2 separate regions of the Homo sapiens genome follow, and region 1 is linked to region 2. The links come from fine-mapping of genetic effects on gene expression. A gene starts in region 2. The other region holds a variant in brackets. All regions are shown on one strand. Distances are between the middles of the regions.

What was found. PIP is the estimated chance that this variant, and not a neighbour inherited with it, causes the effect.
Region 1: its variant is fine-mapped to the expression of SDAD1 in whole blood (TOPMed, PIP above 0.99).

What each region holds. Positions count from the first base shown.
Region 1 is chr4:75,949,716-75,966,051 of GRCh38, forward strand. SDAD1 (SDA1 domain containing 1) reads right to left here. Exons shown (of 22, transcript NM_018115.4): 13 at 16,049-16,107; 14 at 14,420-14,496; 15 at 11,496-11,593; 16 at 11,313-11,389; 17 at 10,351-10,477; 18 at 8,132-8,226; 19 at 7,803-7,993; 20 at 7,610-7,694; 21 at 6,260-6,421; 22 at 200-1,082. The coding sequence ends at 1,035. Among named protein-coding and RNA genes, the nearest start is that of NAAA, 17 kb to the left of the region's middle. The variant G/A (reference allele first, on the strand shown) is at 6,534.
Region 2 is chr4:75,984,251-76,000,586 of GRCh38, forward strand. It overlaps SDAD1 (SDA1 domain containing 1), which reads right to left and starts at 6,695. Exons shown (of 22, transcript NM_018115.4): 1 at 6,502-6,695. The coding sequence starts at 6,591. It overlaps SDAD1-AS1 (SDAD1 antisense RNA 1), which reads left to right. Exons shown (of 3, transcript NR_125906.1): 2 at 11,856-12,494.

The DNA of each region.
Region 1 (16,336 bases), 35 kb before region 2:
CTTTCTGAGTGCAGAAAATTGCCCTTTACTCTAACTTGAGGTAACATCTACCACAACATTATCTGAGAAAGCTGAAGCAAAAGGCACCAAACTATTTCCAAATGCAAAAAATTGCATGCAAACAGACTGTCCCCTGAAATGGATGTAGCACGCCTGTGGAACGTAGAACACCACACACCACTCCACATACAAAGGTACGTATTTGGCATTAGAAACCTTTTATTGAGACAAGGTAAACAGTGGGCTGAAAATATTACAGGCTGAAGGAAGGCTGAGGAAACCAGTATGAAGGCAGCTCAAATGATGAACTAAATATATTCCAAAGGTACTATTTATACTTAAGGCAGTTTTAAAAGTGAGGTCTTAACCAAAAAGCCTTTACATGGCATTCAAAACAAAAACAAAAACAAAAAAAACACGGGGGGGGGGGGGTCACTTAAATCTCTTGGATTGACTAAAAGAGCTAAATTATGTACCCAAAATCTGTACAGCAGGGGCCTGTTTTCAGCAGGAAAGCCTATGTACAAGTAAGAACCTCTTACTCTTGTAACATTGTCCTGTTTTGTTTTGTCTTATAAGAATATATAACTCCTATCCTCACAGAGTTAGTCCATAAGGCCTCAGTGACCTCACAGAAATATGGAGTTAACCTCTACTACAGAACTATTTACACTGCACTGTAAATACACATATGTGTGTCCACCCTCACAGCTAAGCTGTCAATGCCTTGAGTGAAGGGGTTACAGCTCATTCGTTTTGCATCTACAGTGACAATGAATAGGCACTCAATACATACTTTTTTTTGCATGAATGATAAATGAAATGATTTTACATTACCACCACTATTTACATTAACATTCCTACCATTAGCCGTCTCCAAAATAAAAACACAAAATTGCTGCCACATGTTCAGCAGTTTTCACAATACAGTGTGTCTGGACTTTTTAATGTAAACAAACATGCTTGATTTACCAATTTTCAGAGCAAGGACACAAACTTAGCATTCTTCTAGGAATGGAAAACTTGCCAGGAAGTTACTTCATTCTTTTTCTCTTTTTCAAAAGTGCATCTCGTAGTGCCAACTGTAAGATAAAAAAGTATTGAAACATGATAACTCTTGGGTACCCTATTATACGAATTTGGTTACATGAAAGTTTACTAAAAAGGAATCACCAAGTCAATACACCATCCTGAAAAACTATAAATGATAAAATATTCCAAAACAGATCACATCTGAATCGAGGATGGGGCATATTACTGCTAGGAAATATGCAAAACTCTTGACTGCTGTTCCCAACTCATGGAGGCATAAGCTCAAAACAGGAGCAGCTATGGAATGCAGAGACTACTATTTATTATCCCTGTCTCCAGGGATAATAAATAATACTTATTTGGTCTATGTGGCTCTTAATATTTTGGAGTTGTGGATGGAATACATTGTCTAAATTAAAAGTAACAGGAAAACAGATTTTTCTTCATAATCAATCACCTTTCCCAATATCACATATATTCCACTAAATATGGCATGTATGGATCACTCAAAGATTTTATAATGGCATTCAGCACTTGTGTAGATTTATGATAACTCTATCAATATAAAATCTGAAACAAAGAAAAGTGATACCTTACTAAGAAAATGTTCTAAGTATATGCTAACACTAACCCTTTATAATGGCTCAAACATGAAGATATTAACTCAGAAATTGAAGCCCTGACAATTGTAGCTTATGGCAAAATATTTATTCTAGTTAATACAGGCTCTAATTTTTAACTTGTTTAATTATTTTGTGTTGGAAGTATGTAAAGTGAACATGAAGAATGAAAGCAGTGAATTGTATATCATAATGAGACTCAGTCTAGGCTTTCATCTCCTGGAGTTTGTCTCTAACCAGAGGCTGGGTTCTTCAAGATCCCCAGGGTAGAACTGGAAGGTGAAGAATTTAACATCTAGAGAAAAAGAAGACTGAAGGATCAGTGTCTGACGCAAACCTACAAAAGCCCTTATAAAGTTTTACATGTCAAAAGAAAGCAAACATAGTATTAAAGATGATCAAAAATAAACCAAAATTAAAGTTAACCAAGACCAATGTATACATCTTAAGTTTGTGATGGATACTATTCCATTAATTCCCAAGTACTATTCTTTGTCCTAGAAACTTTTAAAAATCTCTAGCTTTTATTTAATTTTTATTTTAAAATTCTAGCTTAAATTTTAACAAGATACACCTAAAACAGTTTCGGGGTAGAAGTTACCTGGCTCTACATACAAATGTTCAAACTTTTTGGATTTTATGATTTCCAGTTGACTCTTTGCCTTTAACTCACACCTGGGTCTTGGTATGTCTTTGCAGAAAAGCAGAAGAGCTGGGATACTTAAGGCAGAACAAAAATCTGTAAGTTCATTTCAACTTAATTTGGCTAAGGAGGTATTTTCCAGATTCATCTAATTCTATCTTATTTTCCTCATCTGCAAAATTGGTTTAATCACAGTAACTGCACATACTGTTGTATACTGATTAAACAAGTTAATAAATGGAAAGCCCTGGAATAGTGAAGTCTCATGCTAAGAACTAAATGTGTTAGCTAATGTTGGTTATGGGAATTTACTTCCACTCATTAAGCTTTGTAGCAAAGCACAGCCTACTCTCACACATATTTCAGTTCCTTCCCCTTCAAATGCCACCAATTAAAGAAAAGGAACAGGTATATCCCCCTTTTCTTCTTTTATCTTTCTACAGGCTTTACTGCAAGATCCTCCTCTCCTTCCCTATCGTATGCTTTACTTCCCTCTTCTAGTCTCATCCCAGTCACCTCTTCATATTCTAACAATTTACAGTAAGACCTCATGTACACTTTCAAGCCAGGTAAGATTCCTTTATTTAAGACACTGAAATATCACCAAAGGGTAGGGGGGTGTGTGAAGTGTGATGCTCCTTTCTCACAGGGCCCTTGGGGTCACAGGGCAGTTTTGGGGATGCTCTGTAACTGTTGTGTCCAATAGGGTAGCCACTAACTACATGTGACTACTGAGCATTTGAAATGTGGCTAGTCCAAATTGAGATGTGCTGCAGTGTTAACGACATGCTGATTTCAATTAGCTCAGAAACAAAAATGTACAATATTTCACTCATAATTTTTATATGTTGAACTACATGTTGAAACAATACTATTTTAGATATACTGGGTTAAATAAGATATATTGTTACAATTTCCTCTTTTTTTACTTGTTTATTTTTAAGTGATATATGTGGTTCATATTATATTTCTATTGAACAGTACTGGTCTAAAGGGGAGAACAGAGAAAATCAGGAACTTAAAAGTTTATGTTTATAATGAAGAGATCTTGAAGAAAATACAGGGCAAAGGGACACACATAGAAATTCTGATTAATATCAGGTTCCAAATGACAAGAAAATTGGAGAACAAGAAAAAACATTCTTGAACCAACAAGTGCATATGTCCAATGAAATCTTAATTTACTCTCAAAAAGATTCTTCAATCTTTGAGAGTTATTTTATGACTCGAGGTGCTTGAAAGGAACAAAGCTGGGCTTTCCCTTCATGCCAGAAAAGGCATGCTAAAAAACAAAGGAAGTAGGGGTGGGGGGAGCCCTAACTAAAATATAACAAGCTCACAGAAACCTTATAATGAAACAAGGCCTACCAACAGGGTAATTAATACTTCCTCAACCCTGAAATGTTAGTTAAGGGCCAGTGAAGGACAGACTAATGGATTTAAGTCAATCCTATTATAATTTTAGGAGAATGTGGCAAAATTTAGAGTACTTAAAATCCTAAGTGGCACCTTTCCTTTCACCTCAGTTTCAACAGCTTCTATTAAAAATGCCGTCATTATTTAAATGATGTTGTTGAACACAGTTTAGAACTAGAAAGAGTCAACAGGGAGAGCTAAATGGTACCTTAATTCAGTGAATACTGACTTGGAACCCACAGACACAGCACTGCCCTAGAGGGCTGGCCGTTACATTCAGTGCTGGCAGGCTGATCCTTGGCTAGCTATTTAGGAACACTGATTCACAATATGAGACTGTTTAACCCAGAGCTGATATCCTGGCAATTCTTCAGAATGATATTTAGATACACTGCTACACCACAAGGAGAGAAAGATACAAAAGCATAAACTTGTTTTATCACAATGAATAACTGAAATAAATGAGCTGCCTAAGTAGCATGGGATTACCATTCAAAGGCCATGAATGGATAAAATGTAATCCCAAAGCCTGTAAACATCAGGGCTTTCAAAAGGGCACATACAGGAAGGATCATGCCAACACACTATTTATTTTGCATTGCTTTTCTGAAACTGTTTCTGAGATATCACCACACAAAATTATTGGGTTTTGAAAAGTACCCACGCCTGGGGCCAGGCGCGGTAGTAGCTCACGCCTGTAATCCCAGCACTTTGGGAGACCGAGGCAGGCAGATCACGAGGTCAGGAGATCAAGACCATCCTGGCTAACACGGTGAAACTCCGTCTCTACTAAAAATACAAAAAAATTAGCCAGGCGTGGTGGCGGGCACCTGTAGTCCCAGCTACTTGGGAGGTGGAGGCAGGAGAATGCCGTGAACCCGGGAGGCAGAGCTTGCAGTGAGCTGAGATTGCGCCACTGCACTCCAGCCTGGGTGACAGAGCGAGACTCTGTCTCAAAAAAAAAAAAAAGAGAAAAGTACCCACACCTATAATCCTAGCGCTATGGGAGGCTGAGGTGGACAGACTGCTTGAGTCCAGCAGTTTGAAACCAGACTGGGCAACATGGCAAAACCCCATCTCTACAAAAAATACAAAAATTAGCCGGGTGTGGTGGCAGACGCCTGTAGTCCCAGCTACTTGGAGGGCTGAGGTGGGAGGATCACTTGTAGGGAGACCCCCTGAATCTATTGCTACAGAATAAAAGATGAAATGCTCCTCATTATTGTAAATACAAAATTGCATGCAAGATTGTGTAAAAACAATGCCAGGTTGGGCTGCCAGAATGAGCCAACAGCACATGATGTGCTTCCCCCTGCAGAGAGCCTATGAACGGACGTGCAGTCAGGGAGGTTTCACATCACCAAGATTCCTATCCCAGAAAAGCAGATGTTCATAGCTCTGGGAATGGAATGTGACCCTTGTGGAGAGCCTATAAATGGATGCATGAGGGGCGCCTGTCCATATGGATAAGATAGGGTTATAAACGCCCTTATCTTGCCACGGCTCTTGTAGGTCTCTTCAAGAGTAAGGCATACTACCTTCTGAGAATTTGTGGTCTAACCAGTTGTCTAGCTTCACGTCCTGTTTCTATTGATTGTTTACAACCAGTTTTTGCTGCAACTGTTACTGCTGATTAATATCTTGCTAAACGTAGGTTATGGATAGACTGTGTTTCTGTTTTAAGGCTCTGTTAGAAATTGCTGATGCACACACTATATTGTAAATTCTTATCTCTGTATACTGTACTTCTGCATACCAATGTTATGTTAAAGAATTACTTCATCCCCATGTGACCATCTCACCTCATAATCAAACGACCCTAAATCCCTCACTAACCTACGCCCACTCTCACTAAACTTAATAATAAATGGTGGTATATCCAGTGCATTGGCAGCATCGCAGGACCAGAAGGCGGTGACCCCCCTGGACCCAACTTTCACTATCTTGTGTGTGTCTTTTATTTCTCCACCTGCCTTTCCACTTGGGAACAAAGAAAGAGCCCCGTTGCATTGCGGGCTGCTGGCCAGATCCCGCAATAATCACTGGAGCCTGGGAGGTCGAGGCTGCAGTGAGCCATGAGGCTGCAGTGAGTTGTGACTGCACCACTGCACTCCAGCCTGGATAGCAGAGTGAGACCCTGTCTCAGAAAACCAGGCATAAAATTGGCACTAAAAAGTTATTCAATTAATTTTGATATTATATTTCACAGATCAAATGTCAGAGAATTTTAGCATGGGAAGGAACCTCATGGATGATCTAGCTTGCATTCCTTTACTTATACTGGAGGAAAATGGATTCCCCTCTGGTCCCACAGCTGAGTCTCAATCAAGTCAGGTCTGGGATTTACATACCCTGAATCCTTCTCACCTCTCCATGCTCTCCAGCAATGCTCCCATTAATGGGAACTCTCCAACAATGCTCTCCAACAATGCTCCCAAGACACACACAATAATGCCCAGTCTTCAGAAGGCGCAAGTCCGTCTCAAATGTAAAGCTGTCTTGGAATTACAGTGCTGTTCTTGCCACCCAAGCTTCAAGTGGAACTCACCTGTTTTTCTCGGAAGGAACGCTTATTTTTTGACCGGACATTCTGGCTATACCGCATCATCATAAAGTTCTTCTGTTTTTTCTTCTCTTTATTTGTCGAACTGGAAAATGGATTTGTTTTGGTTTTCTTCCTCACAAATTCTTTTCGGTCTGTCTTTCCAGCCTACCAGAACAAAAAGTTTGATATTTCTTCTTCAACAACATACTTTAGGAGTCATCTAATCAACATTAATGTCTCCTCTGTGTCAGAAGCTCTACTAGGTGCCAAGGGCACA[G/A]AATGGACAGGACACAGTCTTTGCTCCTTGGGACCAAGAAATGGCCATACAGTATTATAACAGAGCAAGGGGAGCTCGGTGGAAGAAAAGTCATAATTTAGCCTGGTGAGGTCAGGGGAACTTCCTAGAAAGGGAGACAGGTAGACTGTTTTTTTTTTGTTTTTTTTTTTTTTGCAGGATGAAGGCATTCATGGTAAGGGAAAGGAGGGGAAAGACAGAGCATTTCCGGAAGAAGGGACAGTGCACACAAAGGTGTGGAGGAGAAAGGACACATGGAAGACAGAGGATGAGGTGGAACTAGGAGGGGACAGTGTCTCAAACAAGTGGAGATACAGAAAATGATGTTGGAAATGTAGGCAGGACACAGACATGAGCAGCCACAGCACTAGCCACAGGCAGACTCCAACTGGCTCTGGCTTTTCACTGGTGACTGTAAACACATTCCTACTTTTCTCTTAGCTTTGATAAATATAGTGGCTTCCTGACAATACAGACATGTAATACTGCCTTCCTGTGCTCTCTACCTTGTTTTGAGTGGTGGTTACATGGCTATATACAGTTGTCAAAACTCATCTAACTGGCTGGGCGCAATGGCTCATGCCTATACTCCCAGCACTTTGGGAGGCTGAGGCGGGTGGATCGCATGAGGCCAGGAGTTTGAGACCAGCCTGGCCAACATGGCGAAACCTTGACTCTACTAAAAATACAAAAATTAGCTGGGCGTGGTAGCAGACACCTGTTACCCCAGCTACTTAGGAGGCTGAAGCAGGAGAATCGCTTGAACCTAGGAGGCAGAGGTTGCAGTGAGCTGAGATTGTGCCACTGCACTACAGCCTGGGTGACAGAGAGAGACTGTCGCAAAAAACAAACAAACAAACATACTAACAAAAGCAAACCCAAACAAAACCCCTCATCTAACTGAACATCTAATATCTGTGCATTTTAATTTCTGTGTTAATTATACCTTTATTTAAAACATTTTTAAAAATTGCCATTCTGTGGCTATACAAGTTCTGGCTTATGTTTCATTTTATTTGCTTTCTGTTTAAAAAACTAGGAATGATATGCTCACTCACCATTGCAGTTGCTAGTCTTGTCTCTTTGTCAGACTTTGGCTTTTTATGAAGGCGTTCAATGTCCCGAAGAGAAAGTAATTCACCCCTGGGGTGAGGGAAAAATAACACATGAAACAAGAATGGAATTCTGTTTCCTGATGCTTTCATTACCACATGAGCTGACTGAAGTACTAAAGTGGATGTGCCATTTTACCTGGGCTCTTCATCACTGTCTATTTCAATGTATTTCCTCTTCTGGGATTTCCCGGGGGCAGCATCAAGTTCTTTTCTCATTTGGGCCATGCGGATTTTCTGGAAGTCTTCCTGAGTTAAAACTCGGCTAGTGCTGATGGCTGCAGCTTTGGCCTTCCGCTCCTCCATGGGCATGCTGTTCAGCTTCTTGGACTTGAAACCACACAAGGGCTTAAATGGCTACCAGCTCAAGTGAGAGCTCAGCCATTTAAATTGTAGCCTCCCAACAAGGCCCAGAATAAATTACGTCTTAATAAACACCAGGTTATAAGATGAAATTTTCAGACTTACGATTTCTTGCTGTTCTTCATCGGAAGAGTGTTGCACATCAATCCATTCACCATCAGCATCCTCCTCCTCACTGAGACTGGTACTTTCCCATCCATCTGCGTGAAAAAAGCAAACCCACTACTGCCATTTTATGTTGCACATTCAACATAAAGTTGAGATGAAGCAAGCAACAGAAAAGTAATGAACCTTGAACAGATACATTATTAACCAAGAACTGAGCAATATTTATTGTTAAATAAACAATGTGCCTTTAGTTAATCTAAGGAATAGGAAATAGGCACTGATCAAGTATCTACCATGAGTCAAAACCTTACAATCACTCTCTCTAACCCTCATAACTCCAAAGAAAAGGAACAGATGCTCAGAGTTTAGTAATGTGCCCCAAGCCACACCGCTAAAAAGGCATCCTACACTGAAATCATGAAAATCATGTCTACCTTTAGGGTCATGTTCTTTCAACTAAACCAACTGTGTCCATCAAAACTGCACTTGTACATTTATCCTGGCCACGCAGCAGGCATCTAATTTGTCCTATGCGTGTTACCCACGTATGAGAATCTAGTTAGTCATTCAGACAACTGAGGTAGAATATTTGGGATGTTAAAGAATCCTGAAGACACCTCAATAAAAAGGTATCAGGCTTCTTAATGGAGCCACCACAGTTTAAATTTTCTAAATCACAGACACTGCAATCTTTCCATGACTCCCTATGATCTTTAAGAGAACGTGCCAGCTCTTTTGTCTGGCATATACATAACCAAGTATGAAAAGGTCACCAAACTCTATCTCAAGCCTCCTGTCTTTCTATGTTCCATCTTGTATCCTACATTCTAATAGTTAGTTCCCTAAATCCTTCAAGACTTTGCTCACACTTTGCCTGGAAAGTCTCTGCTATTCTAGCATTCCTTGCCAAATACCTGGCTCATCAGTCACCATCTCTCCAAAGCCCTTTAAAAAAAAAAAAAAAAAGGCCGGGTGCAGTGGCTCACGCCTGTAATCCCAGCCCTTTGGGAGGCTGAGGCGGGCGGATCACAAGGTCAGGAGATTGAGACCATCCTAGCTAAAACGGTGAAACCCCGTCTCTACTAAAAAATACAAAAAATTAGCTAGGTGTGGTGGCGGGCGCCTGTAGTCCCAGCTATTCGGGAGGCTGAGGTAGGAGAATGGCGTGAACCCAGGAGGTGGAGCTTGCCGTGAGCCGAGATCACGCCACTGTACTCCAGCCTGGGCGACACAGCAAGACTCTGTCTCAAAAAAAAAAAAAAAAAAAAAAAAAAAAAAACCTAAAAAAAAACTTCCGAGGTGGACCTGACTGCTCTCCTGCCCTTATGCCCCCACCCACTCCAATCATAAATCCTGTTAACACTTCATTCTTCAGCCCTTTGGAAGCCCTCTAGAGCAGAAATAATACCATTCATCTTTGCATTGGCAGTGGCTGGCTCACAACAAATGCTTAAGAGGGCTTTGATCAAATAGGCTGGGTGCACTGGCTCACGCCTGTAATCCCAGCACTTTGGGAGGCCAAAATGGGAGGATCACCTGAGGTTAGGGGTTCAAGACCAGCCTGGCCAACATGGTGAAACCCTATCTCTACTAAAAATAAAAAAATAAGTCAGGCATGGCTGCACACGCCTGTAATCCCAGCTACTCAAGATGCCGAGGCAGGAGGATCGCTTGAACCTGGGAGATGGAGGTTGCAGTGAGCTGAGATCGTACCACTGCACTCCAGCCTGGGCAAGAGCGAGACTCCAACGTGAGGAAAAAAAAAAAAGATTTGCTGAATAATGAATGAATGGACAGGAAGAATACACGACTCTGGAAATTAGAATGGAGTTCCTCGAGTATTTGCCCACAAATTCAACATGCATTCTCCTTCAACAAGGAGAATTTTGGGGGATTCCTCTAAGGGCTAACCCCCGTAATTTTTTCTAGGCAACAAACACAAGATCATTGTCTTTCTCAAGCACCAAACAGCATGCCCTTGGATGAGCGGCAGCCACCCCGAAGGTCATGAAAAGGCATTTCCTATGCTAGAACATAAGTTCCGCAAGAGGAGGAACCATGCTCAATTGATCCCCCATACTTCTAACAGTGCGTGGCACATAGTCATTGCTCAATAAATATCTGCTGAATGAATGTTCAAATAGTATACAATTTAAAGGTCTGCACAGATACTGCAGGAGTGTTTTGCCCAAAATAAGGGTGAAATAAAAATCAACCTTCATCATTTTCAGCATTCTCTTCTTTCTCAACTTCCAGAACTTCTGCTCCTGGAATGTAATCTTTAGCATCTAATTCTCCATATTCTTGTACTCTTGCTTCTATGGAGGCCTCTGTAGGCTTACCCTAAAGGAAAAGAAATTGTTTGTAATAAGTTGCTTAGATCATAAAACCTTAATCATGAAAGGTAGTCTCTGAAATTATGAATTTATTTTATTTATTTATTTGAAGACAGGGTCTTGCTCTGTTGCCCAGACTGGAGTGCAGTGGTACAATCTCAGCTCACTACAACCTCCGCCTCCTGGGCTCAAGGGATCCACCCACCTCAGCCTCCCTAGTAGTTGGGACTACAGGCACGCACCACCACACCCAGCTAACAAAATTATGAATTTAAAAGGGAGCACTATAAAAAATGCTGGTAACCAAATGACAGCAACAGTTTGCTTATGTCTCAGGTCAAAATAAATCCCCAGCCAGCAATCTGTCCACTATTTTCTTGTTGTGTTTTGATCTAGATCAAGACACTGGTAGTTATTAGAGAGTAACTGCTCTAATTTTTTAAGTCTTGAAAAACGTCATCTCTCTTTCTGTTACATACATGCATCCCTCCTCCCTTCCAACTTGAAAGAGGTAGTATCTGGCTGTGCAATAGCCTGTTCACAAAACTGGCATCAGCTACTGACTGATCTTTGAGATTCCGATCTGTTAATAACATTAAAAGCTTTCAAGCTGAAACAGCCTGATAGGTCTTCAAGACACAGTCATCATCAATGAATATGTGCCAACTATAAAATATTCAGGGCCATGGTATTTGATTCCAAGCTTAAAGAATACAACCGTGTGCATCATAACCATGTAATCATAACAGAAGCATCATAAGTACTAAAATCCTAATTGTAGGAAATTTCTCTCAGTTTGTGAGACCATAACCTTTAGACCAACATAAGTGTGCTTTACCTACCCGGAATTTCTTCTGCAGCATCTGAGGATTCAGTGTTCGGAAGAGGTGAATCAAAGTTCTAGCAGACATCATTACATCTGTAAAATAATACTTTTAATTAGAAATTCTGGCCCATAGAGTACAATGAGGTAAAAAGGAGTCACACTGTACTCTTTGGTGTGTAGAGAGTAACATGCAGCTTACTCTTATCCTTGTGTGTTTTATACTGAGCCAGGTCTTGGAGAAGTTCTTCAGTCATGGCCAGAGGACATCGAGCTGTTATCTCCTTTATAGCATTGATTCTAGAAAAAGAAAAACAAAGTTTAAAAGAGCCCGAATAGCAATTTTTTCATGATTCAACACAGGAAGACTTCCTAAAAAGATTAACTCAAAAGGAAAACACGTTGAGTTTTATATAGCTTAGGTCTCCAAAACTGCAGCATGTTAGAGAATGTCAGGTAGGCAGCCTTAGAGGGCTTTTATTCCAGTTACTGCCATTTCCTCTACTGGTGGAATAAGGAACAGTGTCCGGCACACTAAATCAGAGAAGCATTTACTTGCCAACTCTAAGAAGAGATGGGACTAGCTCAAATAAGAAAGGTTAAAGTCTTTAGGGCTATTATCCTGCAATATTTTCCAAGGAAAATAAAAAGCTGCTGTTCAGCATATCACTTACTTATCAGGACAGATTAGACAATCCTTAAACCAGTGATTATACTCATTAAGTGTTTTTTAATCAACCAAAAGGGCTACTAAATTGCCCTAGGAAAAAAGAGTGCTTCAATAATAAATCACTCGTTCCAGGGTTCTATGGTTTGAATGTTCCCTCTAAAACTCATGTCGAAACTTAATTGCCACTGTAATGGTTTAAAGAGGAGAGACTTTTTTTTCACTGTTTTATTATTATTATGCTTTAAGTTATAGGGTACATGTGCACAACGTGCAGGTTTGTTACATATGTATACATGTGTCATGTTGGTGTGCTGCACCCATTAACTCGTCATTAACATTGGGTATATCTCCTAATGCTATCCCTCCCCACTACCGCCACCCCACGACAGGCCCCGGTGTGTGATGTTCCCCATCCTGTGTCCAAGTGTTCTCATTGTTCAATTCCCACCTGTGAGTGAGAACATGTGGTGTTTGGTTTTCTGTCCTTGCGATAGTTTGCTAAGAATGATGGTTTCCAGCTTCATCCATGTCCCTGCAAAGGACATGAACTCATCCTTTTTTATGGCTGCATAGTATTCCATAGCGTATATGTGCCACATTTTCTTAATCCAGTCTATCATTGTTGGACATTTGGGTTGGTTCCAAGTCTTTGCTATTGTGAATAGTGCTGCAATAAACATATGTGTGCATGTGTCTTTACATCAGCATGATTTATAATCCTTCGGGTATATACCCAGTTATGGGATGGCTGGGTCAAATGGTATTTCTAGTTCTAGATCCTTGAGGAATAGCCACACTGTCTTCCACAATGGTTGAACTAGTTTACAGTCCCATCAACAGTGTAAAAGTGTTCCTATTTCTCCACATCCTCTCCAGCACCTATCGTTTCCTGACTTTTTAATGATCGCCATTCTAACTGGTATGAGATGGTATCTCATTGTGGTTTTGATTTGCATTTCTCTGATGGCCAGTGATGATAAGCATTTTTTAATGTGCCTTTAGGCTACATAAATGTCTTCTTTTGAGAAGCATCTGTTCATATCCTTTGCCCACTTGTTGATGGGGTTTTTTTCTTGTAAATTTGTTTAAGGTCTTTGTAGATTCTGGATATTAGCCCTTTGTCAGATGGGTAGATTGCAAAAATTTTCTCCCATTCTGTAGGTTGCCTGTTCACTCTGATGGTAGTTTCTTTTGCTGTGCAGAAGCTCTTTAGTTTAACTAGATCCCACCTGTCAATTTTGGCTTTTGTTGCCATTGCTTTTGGTGTTTTAGATATGAAGTCCTTGTCCATGCCTATGTCCTGAATGGTATTGCCTAGGTTTTCTTCTAGGGTTTTTATGGTTTTAGGCCTAACATTTAAGTCTTTAATCCATCTTGAATTAATTTTTGTATAAGGTGTCAGGAAGGGATCCAGTTTCAGCTTTCTGCATATGCTAGCCAGTTTTCCCAGCACCATTTATTAAATAGGGAATCCTTTCCCTATTTCTTGTTTTTGTCAGGTTTGTCAAAGAACAGATGGTTATAGATGTGTGGTATTATATCTGAGGGCTCTGTTCTGTTCCATTGGTCTCTATCTCTGTTTTGGTACCAGTACCATGCTGTTTTGGTTACTGTAGCCTTGTAGTATAGTTTGAAGTCAGGTAGCGTGACTCCAGCTTTGTTCTTTTGGCTTAGGATTGTCTTGGCAATGTGGGCTCTTTTTTGGTTCCATATGAACTTTAAAGTAGTTTTTTCCAATTCTGTGAAGAAAGCCACTGGTAGCTTGATGGGGATGGCATTGAATCTATAAATTACCTTGGGCAGTATGGCCATTTTCATGATATTGATTCTTCCTATCCATGAGCATGGAATGTTCTTCCATTTGTTGGTATCCTCTTTTATTTTGTTGAGCAGTGGTTTGTAGTTCAAAGAGGAGAGACTCTTAAGAAGTGATTAGGCCTAATGTTGTTATCTTGGGAGAAGGTCCCTTATCACCAGTGAGTTATAAAAAAGTGAGTTTGGCCCTCTGTTGGCTCTTGTGCTCTCTTCCCCTTGTGCCTTCTGCCAATGATGCAGCAACGAGGCCCCCACCAGGTGCCAGACAGACACCAATGCCATGCCCTTGGACTTCCCAGCTCCAGAACTAGGAGCCAAATATTTATTTTATTAGCAGTACAAAGTTTACGGTGGGAGATCAGAAGAAAAGCACTTAGTTTGCTAATCAATTATTCATCTGTAAAAGTAAAACTGCTAAAAAACAAAAATGCTAATTAGAAGGAAAAGTATCTTTTCTCTGGCTCCCTTCTCAAAATTCTGACCAATAAAAAAATTATCAAGCCTCCCAAAAAGACTGAAATATATTTTAAACCAATTTTATAGAGGTGATACTACCAGCTACAATCTTACATCTTGGTAACTTATAGCAAATCTAGTCCATTAAACAATGTATCTTCTGCCTCCAACCAGATTCTACATACCCTACTGTCATGACTTCTCCAGAGTTCTTGTCGGTAACAAAATTGTTTGCCACAGTCATAAGCAATGATTGAATAATCTGAATTGGAAACAAAAAAGAGATGGGTGCTGATTAAATGTCTGCATACACAAACACATAAGAATGAAAGGACAATAGATTATTCATAGTGGAAAACCCAGCCTTCCACCTTCAGTTTAGGAATTGGAAGTAATCAAGATTAAGGAAGACAGAAGAAAACACTCCACTTAGGAATTCAGTGTTTTTCTTGGCTATCCTCAGACTAAATCAAAGAAAGGAATTACTCTATAAATTTACTAATATTCTTGACCTCCCCTAGTTATACAAAATTTGCTTATTAAAGAAAATCAGAATTCTAAACAACTTGTCTGAAAGAAACTTCTTTTTATGAGACGTACAACTGAACTTCTGTGTAGATCCCCTTAAGAGTTAGTGTCTCTTCTATCTATTAAAAGAAGAAAACGGTGAGGGAAGGGGGGACAGTAACCCTTGTGGGAAAAATGACCCTTGTTGTGGGAAGTCAGAGACCCCGAATGGAGGAACCAGCTGAAGCCATGGCAGAAGAACATAAATTGTGAAGATTTCATGGACATTTATTAGTTCCCAAAATTAATAATTTCTTATGCCTGTCTTTGCTGCAATCTCTGAACATAAATTGTGAAGATTTCATAGACATGTATCATTTCCCCAATCAATACTCTTGTGATTTCCTATGCCTGTCTTTAATCTCTTAATCCCGTCATCTTCATAAACTGAGGATGTATGTAGCCTCAGGACCCTGTGATGATTGTGTTAACTGCACAAATTGTTTAAACAATATGAAATCTTGAAAAAAGAACAGGGTAACAGCGATGTTCAGGGAACAAGGGAGATAACCATTAGGTCTGGCTGCCTGAGAGCCAGGCAGAACAGAGCCATATTTCTCTTCTTTCAAAAGCAAATAGGAGAAATATTGCTGAATTCTTTTTCTAAGCAAGGAACAGCCCTGAGAAAGAGAATGTGTTCCTAGAGGTAGGTCTCTGAAATGGCCGCTCTAGGGACATCTGTCTTTTAAGGTTGTAGATAAGGGATGAAATAAGCCCCGGTCTCCCGTGGCACTCCCAGGCTTATTAGGATGAGGAAATTCCCGCCTAATAAATTTTGGTCAGACTGGCTGTCTGCTCTCAAACCCTGTCTCCTGATAAGATGTTATCAATGACAATGCGTGCCCGAAACTTCATTAGCAATTTTAATTTCGCCCTGGTCCTGTGATCTCGTCCTGCCTCCATTTGCCTTGTAATATTTTATTACCTTGTGAAGCATGTGATCTCTGTGACCCACACTCTATTCTTACACTCCCTCCCCTTTCGAAAATCACTAATAAAACCTTGCTGGTTTGGAGCTTGTGGGGCATCACAGAACCTGCCGACATGTGATGTCTCCCCTGGACGCCCAGCTTTAAAATTTCTCTCTTTTGTACTCTTTCCCTTCATTTCTCAGACCATCTGACAAGAAATAGAAAAAAACCCACGTTGAATTATCGGGGGCAGGTTCCCCCGATAGACCCTGAAGTACCTAACAGTAACACTGTCATCCATGCCCTAGGTCCAGAAGTCAGGTTACAGGTTCTCACCTCTGGGGGTACTAGGTGATGAGATGCTTGTGCAGCAAACAGAAGGATCTTGGTTACTTCTGAAAACATAAGAGAACAGAAAGGTCATGGTCAGTGTATCACCCTGCCTCTGAGGACCACAGCAAACATGGCAAGCTCATTCTGGTCTAAATGGTATTGCTGCGTATTCCACCTGGAACACTCAATCCCCAGATATCTGCTTGGCTTACCCCCTCACTTTCTTCAGGTCCCTACTCAATAGCTGCCTTATCAAAAAGTCTCTCCTGACCACACAATGTAAAACAGAAC
Region 2 (16,336 bases):
TCCTGGGCTCAAGAGGTCCTCCTGCCTCAGCCTCCTAAGTAGCTGGGACCACAGACGTTCACCACCATACCCAGCTGATTTTTCATTTTTATTTTTTGTAGAGACGGGATCTCTTTATGTTGCCCAGGCTGGACTCAAACGCCTGGCCTCAAGTGATCCTCTCACCCTGGCCTCCCAAAGTGCTGGGATTACAGGTGTGAGCCATAGCACCTGGCTCCCCTCTTTTTTTACCTCTTCTTTTAAGTGTCAGTAACTTTATGCTAGAGCTCTAGGCAGGATGTGTTAACAGCCAATAGCAGTAGACACATGGAAATAATAATAGCTTCCACTTATTCAGCACTTGTTATGTACTAAGCTCCTTATGCACATCAACTCACTTACTTATGTTTAGTTGTAACAGCCACCTGATAATCAAATGTTGGAATTCACCAGGCCTCAATTCCACAGTTCCATGCCTTACAGCTAACTACTCTCCACCCATACATAGTCTATGTCTTTAAATTATGTGACATACACACACACACACAAACACACACACACACACACACACACACACACACACTCTTTCTCATCATCCCTACCTGGTCCAGTGAACTCCCAATTCACATATCCAGTCACCTGTCTGACATCTCTGTTTAGGTGTCTAAACAGACATCATAAACTTAGCATGGTCAAAAAACACAACTTGATTTCCTCAACAAAACTGCCAGGCTTTTTCTAAGAACAGAAGTCAAGTCCCTACATGCTTCAGATAGAACCACTTCTCTCTTGACCCGACACCTCCACTGAATAGGAGTGAGGAGAGGGCTACACAACTCTTTATGCTACTGACAAAATCCTCACCCCATTTCTTCCCCCACCCCACCCATGGCCCAGCTAACACTATTTACCCGCCTTGAGATGATCAGGACTAATCTCATTACACCCTTTATGTGCATCAGTCACCACAAGAGCCCAGTATTCCCTGGCCATCCCTCATCCTCCTCACTGTAATCCTCATTCCACTACAATCCTGAAACTCTTGGGGTGGGGCCAAGGCATCTAAATCAAACAGCCCAGTCATTCAGATGCTCTATGGGAACAGTGGTTTTCTCCTGACACACTGCTACGTCGTTTCTTTCTCCCAGCATGGATGAGTCAGTAGGCATCCTCCTTTTTCATCAATGCTACTTCCAGAGCACTCATATCCCTCCAGATTAATATCCTTTCTCCTCAACTGTCCTCACCCCCAGCTTTGAATCTTATGCCACAAGACCCACTATTCCTCCTTGTAGTCATCTAAAGACTAGAGTTATCCTCACATTCCTTCAACATTTCAGCTCTTTGCTCACTGTCTTCTCACCCTCTATCTCAATTCCTGTTATAATACTTGGTGATTTCGTATCCACATGGAGGGTCTTCCCAATACTCTGGCCCCTCATTACCCTGACTTCTCCTCCTCTAATCATCTTGAACTTACTGTATCTTAGCACTCACTTCCATGGTCACACCCTAAATGTTGTCATTACCAATAACTATATTACAACTCCATAATCTCAACTAGAGGTATATTCCTCTCCAACCACATCTCTTATTTTCCAAACTCCAACGATCCTTCAATCTCATCAGAATCCACAGTCCACTAAGCCTACTACCTTTCCACTGCACCTAAGTAACCCCCACGCCAACTTCCCTTCTCATCCAGCTTCAATTCCATGATCAATCATTATAATCACCTCCATGCGTATACTTCAACTCACTTGCCCATTTCTCTTATCATTATACCCATTTGGTAAAATGCCCACCCTGTGCTTTCCTTCTCTACAGCTATACTCCCAGAGCTGAACATGGTTGGAGAAAATCGGCTAATTGGTGTCATTTTATTTTTTTCATTTTAATTTTTTTTAGAGCCAAGGTCCTGCTCTGTCGCCCAGGTTTCCGTGCAGTGGTGCTATCATGGCTCACTGCAGCATCAAACTCCTGGGTTTAATCAATCCAACTGCCCTAGCCTCCCAATTAGCTGGGACTATAGGCACAAATTCATAACTACAAACCTCAATTAAGCCCTGCGTGTACTCCAGCAATCTCATTACATTTCTCTAGTCCCTTCACTTTCCCACTTTTCTGGACAACCATTTCATACTTTGCAATCTGTCCTCCAACCTCACTTTTTCCCTGTCCCCATTCTCAGCAGATGATCTTATCTCCAATTTCACTAGGAATATAAGCAATCTGAGGATAATTTCCATTTAACCACCTATCTTCTCCTGTGCCCATATACTTTACCTTCTCTCCTACTACAAAAGCTATCAGGCCACCATCTAAGGCTAGCCCCTCCAGTTATGCATTAGATTCTAAACCCTGTAATGTCACTCAATCAAGGTCTTTGCTTCACTAGTCCCCACCTCCCATTTCCTGCCTCAACAGGTTCTGCCCCATCAGTATATAGACATGCTGTTCTTTCTGCCATCTTAAAAACAAAACAAAACAAAACAAAACAAAAAACACCTTTCTTGGTTGGGCATGGTGGCTCATGCCTGTAATTCCAGCACTTTGGGAGGCTGAGGCAGAAAGATTGCATGGTTTCAGCTTGGAGACCAGCCTGGGCAACTAGCAAGACCTCATCTCTACAAAAAAATCAACTGGGAATGGTGGTTGCACACTTGTGGTCCCAGCTACCCTGGAGGCTGAGGCGGGAGGATTGCTTGAGCCCAGGAGGTTGAGGCTGCAGTGAGCCGTGATCACACCACTGAACTCTGGCCTGGGCAACAGAGCAAGACTGTGTCTTAAAAAAAAAAATCCTTTCTTGATTCCACTTTACTCTGTACCTTCTACTCTATTTCTCTCTTCAGAAAAAGTCCTTTAAAGAGTTGTCCATATGTTACCTAATTGCCCTCCTTTTTCAAAAAATCCTTTAAATTGAGATATAATTCATATACCATAAAATTTACCCTTTGAAAGTATACAATTCGGTTCTTCAGTATATTCACCAAGTTGTACAACCATAGGTTTTTCATCATCACCAAAAGAAACCCCAATCCATTAGCAGTTATTTCCTATACCCCTTACCCTCAGCTCTGGCAAACACTAGTCTACTTTCCATCCATATAGATGCACCTATTCTGGACATATTCTATTCATATACATTTCATATACATAGAATCATACTCCAATTGTTTTTAAACCTTCTGTAATCAGATTTTTGCACCCATTCCTCTTCCCAAACTGCTCAATGAATCAGGGTAGCCAATGACATCCATGTCGCTAATTTTTTTTTGTTTTGTTTTTCTGAGATGGAGTTTCATCTTGTTGCCCAGGCTAGGGTGCAGTGGCGCGATCTCGGCTCACTGCAACCTCCGCCTCCCAGGTTCAAGCAATTCTCCTGCCTCAGCCTCTGGAGTAGCTGGGATCACAGGTGCCCGCCACCACACCTGGCTAATTTTTGTATTTTTAGTAGAGATGGGGTTTCACCATGTTGGTCAGGCTGGTCTTGAACTCCTGACCTCAGGTGATTCACCCACCTTGGCCTCCCAAAGTGCTGAGACTACAGGTGTGAGCCACCGTGCCCGACCCCATGTTGCTAAATTTAATGGTGGTCAACTTTTGGTATTCATCTTATTTGACTCATCAGCATCTGATGTGCTTGGGTTCTCCCTCCCTTGGGAACATCTTCTATACTTGGCTTCCAGAACACCTCCTGGTTTTCCTCGAAACTTCACTGGCTGCTTTCTCAGTCCCTTTTTCCAGTTACTTAGAAACTCACTGGCCTTTAAATGTTGGGAATCCCCAGGGCTTTCTCTACCTACCCAATCCAGGATCTAATCACCCTTCTTACTACTTCCTGTTACCATCCTAGCACCACTCAACCCAGCATCATCTCTTGCTGTGGATAATTCCAATAGCTTCTTATGTGGTGTCTCTGCTTCTATCTTTGCCCTCCTACATACAGTCTATCCTCAAGTAACGGTGATCTTGTTCTCATATAGGGTGGTTCATGTATTCTTCTGCTCAAAACCCTGTAAAGGCTTCCATCTCATTGGGAGGTAGAATCCCAAATTCACCCCCTTTCCTCATTCCCTATTTGGAGCCACACTGGCCTTTATGTTCCTGAAATCTACCAGGCATACCTACCCCAAGGTCTTTATACCTTCTGTTCCTTCTGCCTAGATCATTCTTCCTAAACATATGCACAGCTCTCCCTCATGTCCTTCAGGTTTTCACTCAAAGATTACTATCTCAAGAAGACCTTCCCTAACTATCCAATTTAAAACTGCAATACCCATCTCACCCCCAACATACATAAGTACTTTCCTATTGTCTTTTTTTCACAGCACTTTTCATTATTTAACATACTATATTATTTGTTACTGTATATCACCCCCTACTAGAATGTCATTTAATGAGCATAGAATTTTTATCGGTACAGCTCAATATTATGTAGTCCCAGGGCCCAGCATTGTGCCTTACATATAGCAGGTAATCAACAGTATTTGTCAAATGAACGAACTTCAGGAAATGGCACTATCATCTACCTAGACATATAAATAAAAAACCTGGGTGATCCTTCATTCCTTCTTTTTTCCTTATCCCCCACATCCACTCCACCAGAAATCCCAAGGCTCTACTAGCTCTACCTCCACGTAGAACAGCACGAATCTTTGCCCATAATTCCAATGACACCACAATCCCTTGCTTGGTTATTCTGAGATCCATTATATTAGTTACCCTGCTTCCAGTGTTGCTCCTCTACAAGCCATTCCACATGTAACTTCCAGAGTAAATTCTTAAAAAAAATATGTCAGATCATGTCACTCTCCTGCTTAAAACTCTTCAATCACTCCCCGAGGCACTCAGAGTGAAATCTAAACTCGTTAACAGGGCCTAAGAGGCTCTGAATAAGCTGACCCCTGCCTGCATTTCCTACATCATCTTCCACTGCCCTCTTCTATGCTGACTACACTTTAGCTACACTGGCTTCTTCTCTGCTTTTTTTCCACCAGTAGCTTCTGCACTTTCTATTCCTTGTACCTAAAATGATGTTTACCTGCCTGGCTCAATATCATCATTGCAGAGCCACCTTCCCTGTTTACGGGGTCTAAATCAGAAGCCTCCAATTCTAACCTATTCCCATCCAGTTTTATTTTCTTCATAATCTCTACCATAATAAGTCTACACTCACTTGAATGTAAGTCCAAGAGAAGAATGCTTTCTTATCTGTCTTATTCATTACTGTACCCCAACGCCTACCTAGAATAACAACACACAGTAGTTATATGTGATTTTGCATATATACTTAAGTGAATTAAAGAAGTAGTTATTACCCCCTTCTTACATATTAAAATACCCACATAGGCTCAGCGATTAACCTGCTTCGGTTACACAACTGGTTAACAACAGTCAGCAGCAGGAGTTATCTAACGGAATTATATAGACTCTCAACTTACCACTTTCTTTGCGAATGGCTATACAATGCTTTAAGCATCTCAAAGCCTTGCCTATGTTACTTAACTTCTTGTACTTGTTTCCTACTCTTTATTTCCACTACCTTGATCCTTGGAGAGGCTTTCTCTACTGGTGACCTAAGCCACTGAGATTGCCATGTGTTAAAAAGCACTCATAAAATACATATATGTGAAAATTTAGGGGAGGAGGGAAGTGAGAAGGGCAATGAAAAAATAAGTAATTGTGTTAGCCACTGAACAAATCACAATCTGGTAGAAGCACAAACATGTAATTGCAGCAAATGCCTAGCAGAGATACCTGTTTAATGCCCGTCTGATAAATGAGTGTCTGAAGGAAGCACCTGTCAGATTAATATATCAAAAACCACTTTCGTTTTGTCGGTACTTGGTTCAAACACCCCTAATGTTCACAACTTACATGAGGTCAGTACACAAAGCCCATCACAATGAGGGCCTAATTTTTCAACCTAATCTTTTCCCGAAGCAAATTCTGACATCCGAGTCATGCCAGTCTCCGGTAAGTTTGAATCCTGGCTTAACTAAATATACTAAGCTCCCGAGTCTGTCCGTTGTGCTTGAGAAACCCCCCCCCCCCCTTTCCTGGCACAGTCCAGGGTACACAGCCTGCTCTCAGAAACGGACGTCAATCGAAAGCATTCTAACATACGATTCATCAAAGGTTACCGACTAATTCAAGTTTGGGATTTCTGAAAAGAGGCTGAGAAATCCGCGTGGAAGTTGGTGGTTGGGTGCGGCCCATTTCTCTCTCCACTTCCGTGCGGACGAAGAAAAATATCTTAAAACAAAATGAGGTTTTAAAGGTGTTTCAGCGGCAGCAGGGCAGGTAGAAAATCCAAAGGGGCAACAGATTTTCAAGAGGTGGGGAACGAACCCTAAGGCATGTCCCGTCCCCAACCCCTTCTCTCCTCTGGAGGGACCCCTGAACCTAACAGAAGAATAGGCGGCGAGCCTGGATCCCAGCCCCACTCCATGCTTTCCCGCACCGGCGTCTCAACCATCCACTATCCGGCCTCTAGCGTCTGCCGCGCCGCACTCCCACCTCCTCGATGTAGGCCGGCGGGTCTCGCTTGATTAGATTCTGTAACTGCGGCAGGTTGCTGGGAAGCTTGTTGTTGTTTCTGTTGGACATTTTGGCTGCAGACAGACTTCGCGGCGAGCAGTTTTAAAAAAACTCAGACGGCCGGCACCCCGCAATCCCTGCCAGCTGCAGCTTGGACTCGTGTTTCCGGGTATGACCGGAAATAGCGCATGGGACTCTAGGCAGGCGACACCTTAGCGGTTCCTAAAGCGAGCTATGCTACGGAAGCCTCAGAGTGTCAAAATTACTCTCGTTGCCAAAATACTCTGTGGTGTATTGGAGAGCCAGCCACCGCCGACCCGCCCCTCGCCCTTGGGCATATGCTACTACTTAATATTGCCTTGCGTTTCTGAAAGGATCTGAAATGTAAATTTTTTCACGTGTGTTAGCATGTATCGTCATTCCGACACCCATATGAAGCACATAAATGAGGATTAATCGTTTATTTTTAATCCCGCAGTCTAAAATTAGAAACTGACGCCTGTAATCCCAGCACTTTGGGAGGCCAAGGCGGGCCTGAGGTCGGGAGTTCGAGACCGGCCTGATCCACATGGAGAAACCCCGTCTCTACTAAAATTACAAAATTAGTCGAGCGTGGTGGCGCATGCCTGTAATCCCAGCTACTAGGGAGGCTGAGGCAGGAGAATCGCTTGAACACAGGAGGCGGAGATTGCGGTAAGCCGAGATTGCACCATTTCACTCCAGCCTGGGCAACAAGAGCGAAACTCCGTATAAAAAACAAAACAAAACAAAACAAAACTGAAAAGAACCGTGGCGCTAGATAACACTATTCCCTCTTAGGAGGAAAAAAGAGCAACGAGGGTCATATAAGTTAATGTGTATGATTTTAGATATGTTTTTATTTTGGTTTTGGTTGTTTCAACTTAGCGTGACCCATACAAGGGAAAAGAGGGCTGGATAAAATGTGATCATGTTGACCATTAATAAATGCAATTAATCGTTAAAATTCAACCATCGTTATAAGCTTTGTAAGCACTCCTCAGTCAGAGTTTTTAATTCAGATCCTGGTAATTCGAAGAGGAGAATACATTTCTACAATCTCAAGGTGTAAAAAATCAATAAGGGTTGAATGAATGAGGTAGGGTGTTGTGAATTAGAGAGAGAGAAAAAAAAACCTAATTACCCACCCTGTGCCAGGCACTATTCCAAGCACTTGTATTAACTTATTTAATCCTCAGAACAACCCTCTAAAATAGGTGCTATTGTTATCTACATTTTACAGAAGAGGAAACAAGCTCAGGGAAGTTGACTGCCTCAATTCATAGCCTGTGAGGAAGATGAGATTTCAATCTAGACAGTCTTGATTGTAACTACATGAGAAAAAACATAGCCTAACAGCTGGTAGCTGGTTGCTGGTCTGGCAAAATAGCCAGACAATAGGGTTCTGCTTAACCAAAGCAATTTTATAGAACGCCAACCTCATCTGTGACGATGATAAAATGAGCCCCAAACAAAACAACTCTGTAATCACACCTGCACACAAAATAAAGAATGCTTCACAAACCATGTTATTCAGCTGCTTTTGGAGAATGACTTATTTATTAATTATCAAATCAGTTACCTGTGAAGTTAAGAAATAAATGTCAGCAATAAATCTTTTTTAAAAAGCATAGATTTAAATTAAAATTTTTTGGCTAGGTTGTTTTAGTGAGGGCAAAAAAAGTATTCTCAAAACAAAATCTGGCTAAGTGTGGTAGCTCAAGCCTGTAATCCCAGAACTTTGGGAAGCCAAGGTGGGAGAACCACTTGAGCTGGGTAGTTCAAGACTAGCCTGGGCAATATAGTGAGACCCCATCTCTACCAAAAAGTTGAAAAATCAGCCAGGCATGGTGGCACAGGCTTGTGGTCCAAGCTACTGAGGAGGCTGAAGCAAAAGGGTTGCTTGAGCCCAGGAGGTTAAGGTTGCAGTGAAGCACTGCACACCAGCCTGGGCAATACAGTGAGACCCTGTCTCAAAAAAAAAAAAAAAAGAAAAAAGACTGCGTACAGGTACTTGAAAATGTCTGGTGTATTGAAACAATAGCCATAAGTTTGGTGTGACTAAAGGCTGGGAGGGCAGGGTGCAGCAGGGAAAGAGCTGAGAAGGTTATATTGTCCTGATATGAAAGGCTTTAATTGCTATTCTAAGGAGGGCATATAGGTCAGTTCATTTTACCTCCAGCAGCATGGAAGGCAGGATTTGTTTTTGATAAATGAGAACTCTAAGACTAAGAGTGGCTAACTGAATATATATTTTTCAGATGTTAAATAATTTGGGTATCTAAGGCCAACATCTCTGCTTTCATGTGAAATTCCATCCTTTATTTTTAAAATTATAATGTATTTATTTTATAGCTTTATTAAGATATAATTGATGTACAACAAACTACCCAGTGAACAATTTGATAAGTTTTGACATATGTATGTACCCATAAAACCATCATCACAATCAAAATAATGACTATATCCATCATCCCCAAACGTTCCTTGTGCCTCATCATCCCCAGACAAACACACATCTGCTTTCTGTCACCAAAGATATGTCTGTGTTTGCTGGAATTGTATACAAATGGAATCATACAGTACCTATTATTTGAGGTCAAGGTTCTTTCACTTAGCATAATTATTTTGAAATGTATCCATGGTGTTGTATGTATCAATAGTTCACTCCTTTTATTCCTGAGTAGTATTCCATCATATAGACATATTGCAATTTGTTTATCCATTCACTAGTTGCTGGATATTTGGGTTGTTTCCAGTTTTGGCTGTGAACATTCATGTTCAAGTCTCTTTTTAAGAGATAGGGTGTTGCTCTGTCACCAAGGGTGGAGTGCAGTGGCATGATCATAGCTCACTGCAGCCTTGAACTCCTAAACTCAGCCTCCCTAGTAGCTGGGACTACAGGTGGTGTGCCACCATGCCCAGCTAATTTAAAAAAATATATTTTTGGCTGGGCTCAGTGGCTCACGCCTGTAATCCCAGCACTTTGGGAGGCCGAGGCGGCGGGTCACGAGGTCAGGAGATCGAGATCATCCTGGCCAACATGGTGAAACTCCGTCTCTGCTAAAAAATACAAAAAATTAGCCGGGCGTGGTGGCGCGCACCTGTAGTCCCAGCTACTCAGGAGGCTGAGGCAGGGGAGTCGGTTGAACCCAGGAGGTGGAGGTTGCAGTGAGCCAAGATCGCACCACTGCACTCCAACCTTGGTGACAGAGCAAGACTCCGTCTCAAAAAAAAAAAAAAAAAAAAAAAAAAATATATATATATATATAAAAGACAGGGTCTCACTATGTTGTCCAGGCTGGTCTTGAATTCCTGGCCTCAAGTGATCCTCCCGCCTTGGCCTCTCAAAGTGTTGGGATTACAGGCTTGAGCCACCATGTCGTGCCATCAAGTCTCTATGTGGACATAAATATCTTGGTAAATGTCTAGGAATAGAATAACTGGATCAATATGATAGGTTTACGTGTAACTTTTAAGAAACTGCCGATCAATCTTTTGCTTCTACCATTCCACTGAAACTGTTTTTTATCAAGATCACCAATCACATCAATTTTCATTATTTAACTTAACCTGCAGCATTGGACACAGTTGGTCTCTCCCTTCTCCTGGAAACATACTTGGTAACTGACCTTTAACTGGTCTCTCTGCATTTTCCCTTACCCTCTTACACTGTATTTCCATGTAGTGGTCAGAGAGAGCCTTAAATGGATCAGGTTATTCTTCCAACTTCCCTTCTCACTCAGAGTAAAAGCTGAAGTTCTTCAGTGGCATAGAAGGCTGTTATGAACTGCATGATTGTGTCCCGCCAAATTCATATGTTGAAACCCTAACCCCCAATGGGATGGTATTAGGAGGTAATTAGTTCATGAAGGTGGAGTCCTCATGATGAGATTATCATCCTTGTAAGAAGAGACACAAGAAAGCTTACCTCCTTTCTCTCTGATCTCTGCCATGTGAGGATACGAGAAAACATCTGTTTGCAAATCAAGAAGAGTGCCTCATCAAATACTAAGATACTAGATCTGCTGGCACCTAGATTTTGGACTTGCCAGCCTCCAGAACTGTGAGGAATAAATGTTTGTTGTTGAAGTCATCGAGTCTGTGGTAATTTGTTATAGCAGCCCAAAACCTTATATGATCTGACCCCACACTATCTCACTGGGCTCCTCTCCCATCACTCTCCCCTTTGCTTACTCTGCGCCCCTTCAACCCTGCAATGATCCCCTAGCTGCCTTAAATGTGTCAAACTTCAGGCCTTCACACTTGCTGTTTCCTCTGATTCAAGTGCCACAAGCCTTGCTCTCTCATTGTCAAGTCTCTGCTCAAATGACAACTTATTAGAGATGTCTTCCCTGACCTCACAGCCCTCTGCTCACCCCACACTCCCTTCCCCTGCTTCATTTTCTCCAAAGCCCTTATCCGTCTCTGATATATCGTATACTTACTAGTTTAGTTGTTTATTGCCTGTCTTTATGCACTAGAATATGAGCTTAATGAAGACTGTTTTGTTCATTGTCTATCCTGTACACTTGGAGCAATGCATGCATATAATAGGTAATCAGTTAATATTTGTTGAATGAATGAATGAATGCATGGATAATCTCTAATGACTTCCAATTCTTCAACTGTGTGATTTATTAAAGCAGGAACTTAAAATATCTTGGACAAACGCAGATAAAATTTACCTGAAAATCAGTAAGTGACTAACGTGTGAATCCTTGTTATTACCTTTCTCATTAGAAACCAATGATATTGACTGTGTTCGGAAAAGCCAGTCATGTCTTCATCCTTTTCTGATTAAAATATATTGTTTTATTATTATTATTATTTGAGACAGGGTCTTGCTGTGTCACTCAGGCTGGAGTTCAGTGGCACAATCATGGCTTACTGTAACCTCAGCCTCCTGGGTTCAAACTATCCTCCTGCTTCAGTCTCCCAAGTGGCTGGGACTATAGGTGTGCACCACCATGCCTGGTTAATTTTTAAATTTTTTTGTAGAAATGAGGGACCGGGTGGGTGGGTCTGGCTATGTTGCCTGGGCTGGTCTCAAACTTCTGGGCTCAAGTGATCCTCCCGCCTCAGCCTCTCAAAATGTTGGGATTACAGGTGGGAGCTGCGATGTTTGGCCTATTGTTTAAAAAAACTGTTAGATTAGCCACTAGAGGGAGCTCATGCTTTTCTTGTTAACGGGAAAATTACATGATTTGACATGCCCACAAACTAAACAGAAATCTCATAAAGAATTATAGTCCTTAAAGCTAATTTAATTTTTTATTGCATTTTCTTTCTTCTTTCTTTCTTTCTTTTTTTAGACGGAGTCTCACTCTGTTGCCACGCTGGAATGCAGTGGCACGATCTCGGCTCACTGCAACCTCCGACTCTCTGGTTCAAGCGATTCTCCTGCCTCAGCCTCCTGAATAGCTAGGATTACAGGCATGCGCCACCACGCCCAGCTAATTTTTCTAGTTTTAGTAGAGACGGGGTTTCACCATGTTGGCCAGGATGGTCTCGATCTCCTGACCTCGTGATCCGTCCGCCTTGGCCTCCCCAAGTGCTGAGATTACAGGCGTGAGCCACCGCACCCGGCCTTTTATTGTACTTTCTTCCTCCTCTCTCTCTTTTACAGCTTTGTTATGAGTTTTCCCCACAAGCCCATGTATTTCTTTGCTCCTGTGGGCAGCGAAAACTTTTGGCCTTGCCTCTGGACAAATCTATCAGGGCTGATAGATTTTGTCATTGGTACAGGCCCTCGCTTCTCATCCACCTCCACTGCCTCTCTTTTTGCTGATCCAAGGTCCCCAACATTCTCCCTAGCTGGCAGAGATCATCCCTGTTTCCCCATTATTCAGAGAAATTTAGCTTAGTTTTGCTTTAACTTCCATACCATCAAAAGTCCTAGGCCCATCTCTCCCTAATCAAAGGCTCCATACAAAAGAGACATCTGCCCTGAGGTAAATTCTGAGGCTTTCAGTATTGCAGAAGTGATTGCTGGCATTTCTTTTTCTAAGCAACACATTTTTTCCCTCTCTGTTATATAGTTTATTTTGACATGTATCCTCTTACCTAATAGATTGTGATTTTTAGTTCTTCATTCCAGAGGAAATGCAGGTTGTCTACTCCAATGGTTAAAGAAAGCTGGTGGTAGATGGCTGTACCTACTTGGTCCTATACTCTACCAGAAGGCAGAGGCCAAGATTTAGTTTTCTGGAGATGGAGATACCAGCAAGTCCTTCCTTCTTTTTTTCTTTGAGCAAAACAAATTCTTTATTAAAACAGTTGACTTGAAACAGTATATTATATCTAAAGGAAGAGTTTTTTTTTAATCTGTATAGCAGACTTTTAAAGAAAGCAACTAGTTATGTATAACTTGACACCTTTCCCTCTAATCTTTTGTCAGTTTGCCCCAGTTCATAATCTTATTAATGGACTTAGATTAGACTGTTCCTTTGTGATTTATTCATCTCCTTAAAATGTAGGGTCCAAAGTTGAAAGTTCCCTCCTGAGAACTTTAAACCAATGTGGGTATCAAAATGCCTCAAGTGACTTCTTGGCTTGTGATGACTTGGGAGCTAATTCCACTCCCTATTAAGAAGTGTTGCCTGTTTTTCTTTCTCATTTAATTTCATCTCCTGTCTATATAGGCCAAAAACGAGACAGTACCTAAAGTATCTGTGATTGTAGTCTCTCTTTATCTTCCTTTCCAATAAGAAGGCAACTTTCCAGTTTCCCCGTAAGGATAAAACAACTACAGATAGCTTCCTCCCAGTTAACTGACCTAGAGATCGCTAGCATTTATTTATTTATTTATTTATTTAATTTATTTTGAGACAGAGTCTCACTCTGTTGCCCAGGCTGGAGAGCAGTGGCACGATCTCAGCTCACTGCAAACTCCGCCTCCTGGGTTCAAACGATTCTTGTGCCTCAGCCTCTCAAGTAGTGGAGATTACTGGCGTGTGCCACCACGCCCAGCTAATTTTTGTATTTTGAGTAGAGACAGGGTTTCACTATGTTGGCCAGGCTGGTCTCAAACTCCTGACCCCAAGTGATCCAGCCACCTTGGCTGGGATTACAGGCGTGAGCCATGGTACCTGGCCACTAGCATTTAAATTCATAAGAATAGTTTACAGATTAAATACGTCTGAGTCTTTTATCCATTGCTCTAATGTATAAAATTTGTTCAGGCACAGACTGCTTTCTAGTATAGCAAAATAATTGAAGATTTTAATCATAGAACAATCCTTACTAGTTAAAGTCATTTTATGACAGGGCATGGAGGTGGATATCAGTGTGGCCAGGAGGATTCTGGGATGGAGTCATGGGAAAAGTGGGACTTGAATCATGTGTAGGTGGGAGTCAGATGAGTTGGAAAGTAGGACAGGGCGAATAAAAGAATGAGCAATGCGAGGGCAGAAATGAGCATGAGATGAACATGACAAGAGTAGTTGAAATTGATTTGGAAAAGGCCTAAAATGAAAATTTAGGGTGAAGTATATGTCAATCAACTAAAAAATACATATTAGGAGCTTCCTAAGTGCCAGGCACTGCTCTAGGCATGCAGTAGTGGGGAAGACAAAGTTTCCATGGTCGAGAAACCTAAATTTGTACATGTGGTAGGGTAGGAGGGAAGATATAAGTACACACATTATTTTAAAAGGTAATTGTAGATTGTGATGGTTTGATCATTATATCTAATCATGATAAAAGAAAATGAAACAGACTCTAGCCACCGGATTTTTAAAATTGTGTACCCTTCTAGTTAAAATTAGAACAGCCATCCCATCTATGTATGTTTTGTTCTCTTGTTAGTTTATATTAGCATTATTAATATGATCTTCCACAGGAATTTCTTAGCAGGAGTCTTTTAGAGCCACTTGCCCATTTTGTGAAGGTTGGCTTAGTGAGCACTCTGTCTTGTAATCCTTAAATCCCCTTAACTACATGCACATAAATGGAAACTCATGTTGCAATCTGCAGAAGGTGAATGACTGAGTGAGGGCACATGCCAGCCCCTCAGTTGTGGCGATGTCACCTTTTCCTCAGGAATTTCTTAGCAGGAGTCTTTTAGAGCCACTTGCCCATTTTGTGAAGGTTGGCTTAGTGAGCACTCTGTCTTGTAATCCTTAAATCCCCTTAACTACATGCACATAAATGGAAACTCATGTTGCAATCTGCAGAAGGTGAATGACTGAGTGAGGGCACATGCCAGCCCCTCAGTTGTGGCGATGTCACCTTTTCCTCAGGAAATTAGCACATGACAAATGATTTACAGTCAATTTTCAGTTTTTTCTTGTTTTTTAGACAAAAATGTAAGTTCTAAATATTTTCATCAACTCCATAAGGTACACACACTGGAACCACTACCACTACCAGAGAGAGAGTCTGGGGAAAGAGTGGTTATTTTACTAAGGGTCATAAGAGAAGGGGACTCTGTGAAGTGACATTTAAACTGAGACTTAAGTGATGAGGCAAGAACCGCCATGCAAAGAAGTGTGTGTAGGCCCAGGTGTTTCAGGGAAGCAGAGCCACTATGAGTATTATGAGGATAAAAATTTACTATAGGATTCAGATCTCACAGATGAGGAAGGATCTCAGGGAGTGAACATCTAGAAGGGAGAGTCAGGGGATCAGAGGAAGAATCAGTGACTGGTCCATCAGAAGCACTGGGACAGTTGGACAAATAGAGCTTGTGTGAAAAATCCAAGAAGTTAAGCCCGTTCAGCGCCAAATTGGGGCTGCTAGGGTCTATGGGAGCTGTTGCTTCTGTGTAACTACCGCCTCTGTGGGTCCACTGCCAAATATCTGGGTGGGGGGCCTGGGACCATCACTGATCATGAGGCCAGCAGTCCTGAGCATAAGCTGAACATGGAGGAAAAGAGCAAGGACAAGCTGGGATCCACTGGCTACCAGTGTGTCTGTCAATATGTCTAATCAAGATTAAGGGTCACTCCTTCACTTTTGATTTCCAAATCTCACATGAGTTCTTCTTTGGCTAACTATAACCTGGAACCACACAGGGAAGGAGATTCTGGGAAATGTAGTTGTAAGACTAACCAAGTTGATATAGTACAACCCAGAACCACAGGGAACAAAAACCCCAGAAGGCAATGAATTCAGTGTGCTCAAGAGACATACAGAAAAAAGGTGATGCTGAGGCTCAACAAAGGAGGGGAGGGTAGAGGGAGCATGATTAGATAAGCAGGCAGATCCCAGCTTATGTTAGGCCAGCTCATGGTATGTTTTGACTTAATGCTAAGCTGCAGGATTTTAAGCAAGGTGGCAGCATTCTGTAAGTTATTTTTTAAAAAGATTATTCTAGTTGTCATGGAAGTTAGGGAAGCAAGAGAAATGTTGAGAAGAAGAGCCAACAGGGAAAACAGCAGGCTACTGAGGTAGCTCAGGAAAGAGACAATGATGGCCTGGACTAGGATTATAAAATACAGATATTGAGAACTGGTCAGGAAGCCTTTTAGTCTCATTTCTCCAACATGTTTTTTCAGTGCTGGAAACATTTCTCTCTCTATGAGATGTAGGATCCATCTGCTGCAAGGAAGATGCAGCAGAGGTAAGTGGTTAGGGAGGATCTGGGACAAACATTGAGGACTTTCTCTGCACCAAGACCTATGCTGAACCTGCTCCTCACAACAATCTGGAATGAGGAAAATGATGCACTGGGAGGTTAAATATTATACTTTAACCAGGGTCACACAGTTAATAAGTAGTGGGCCCCTGATTCTAACCAGGATATCTCAGAATCCAGGATCTTAGCTCCTTCCAGAGTCCTGTTGCCTCTCAG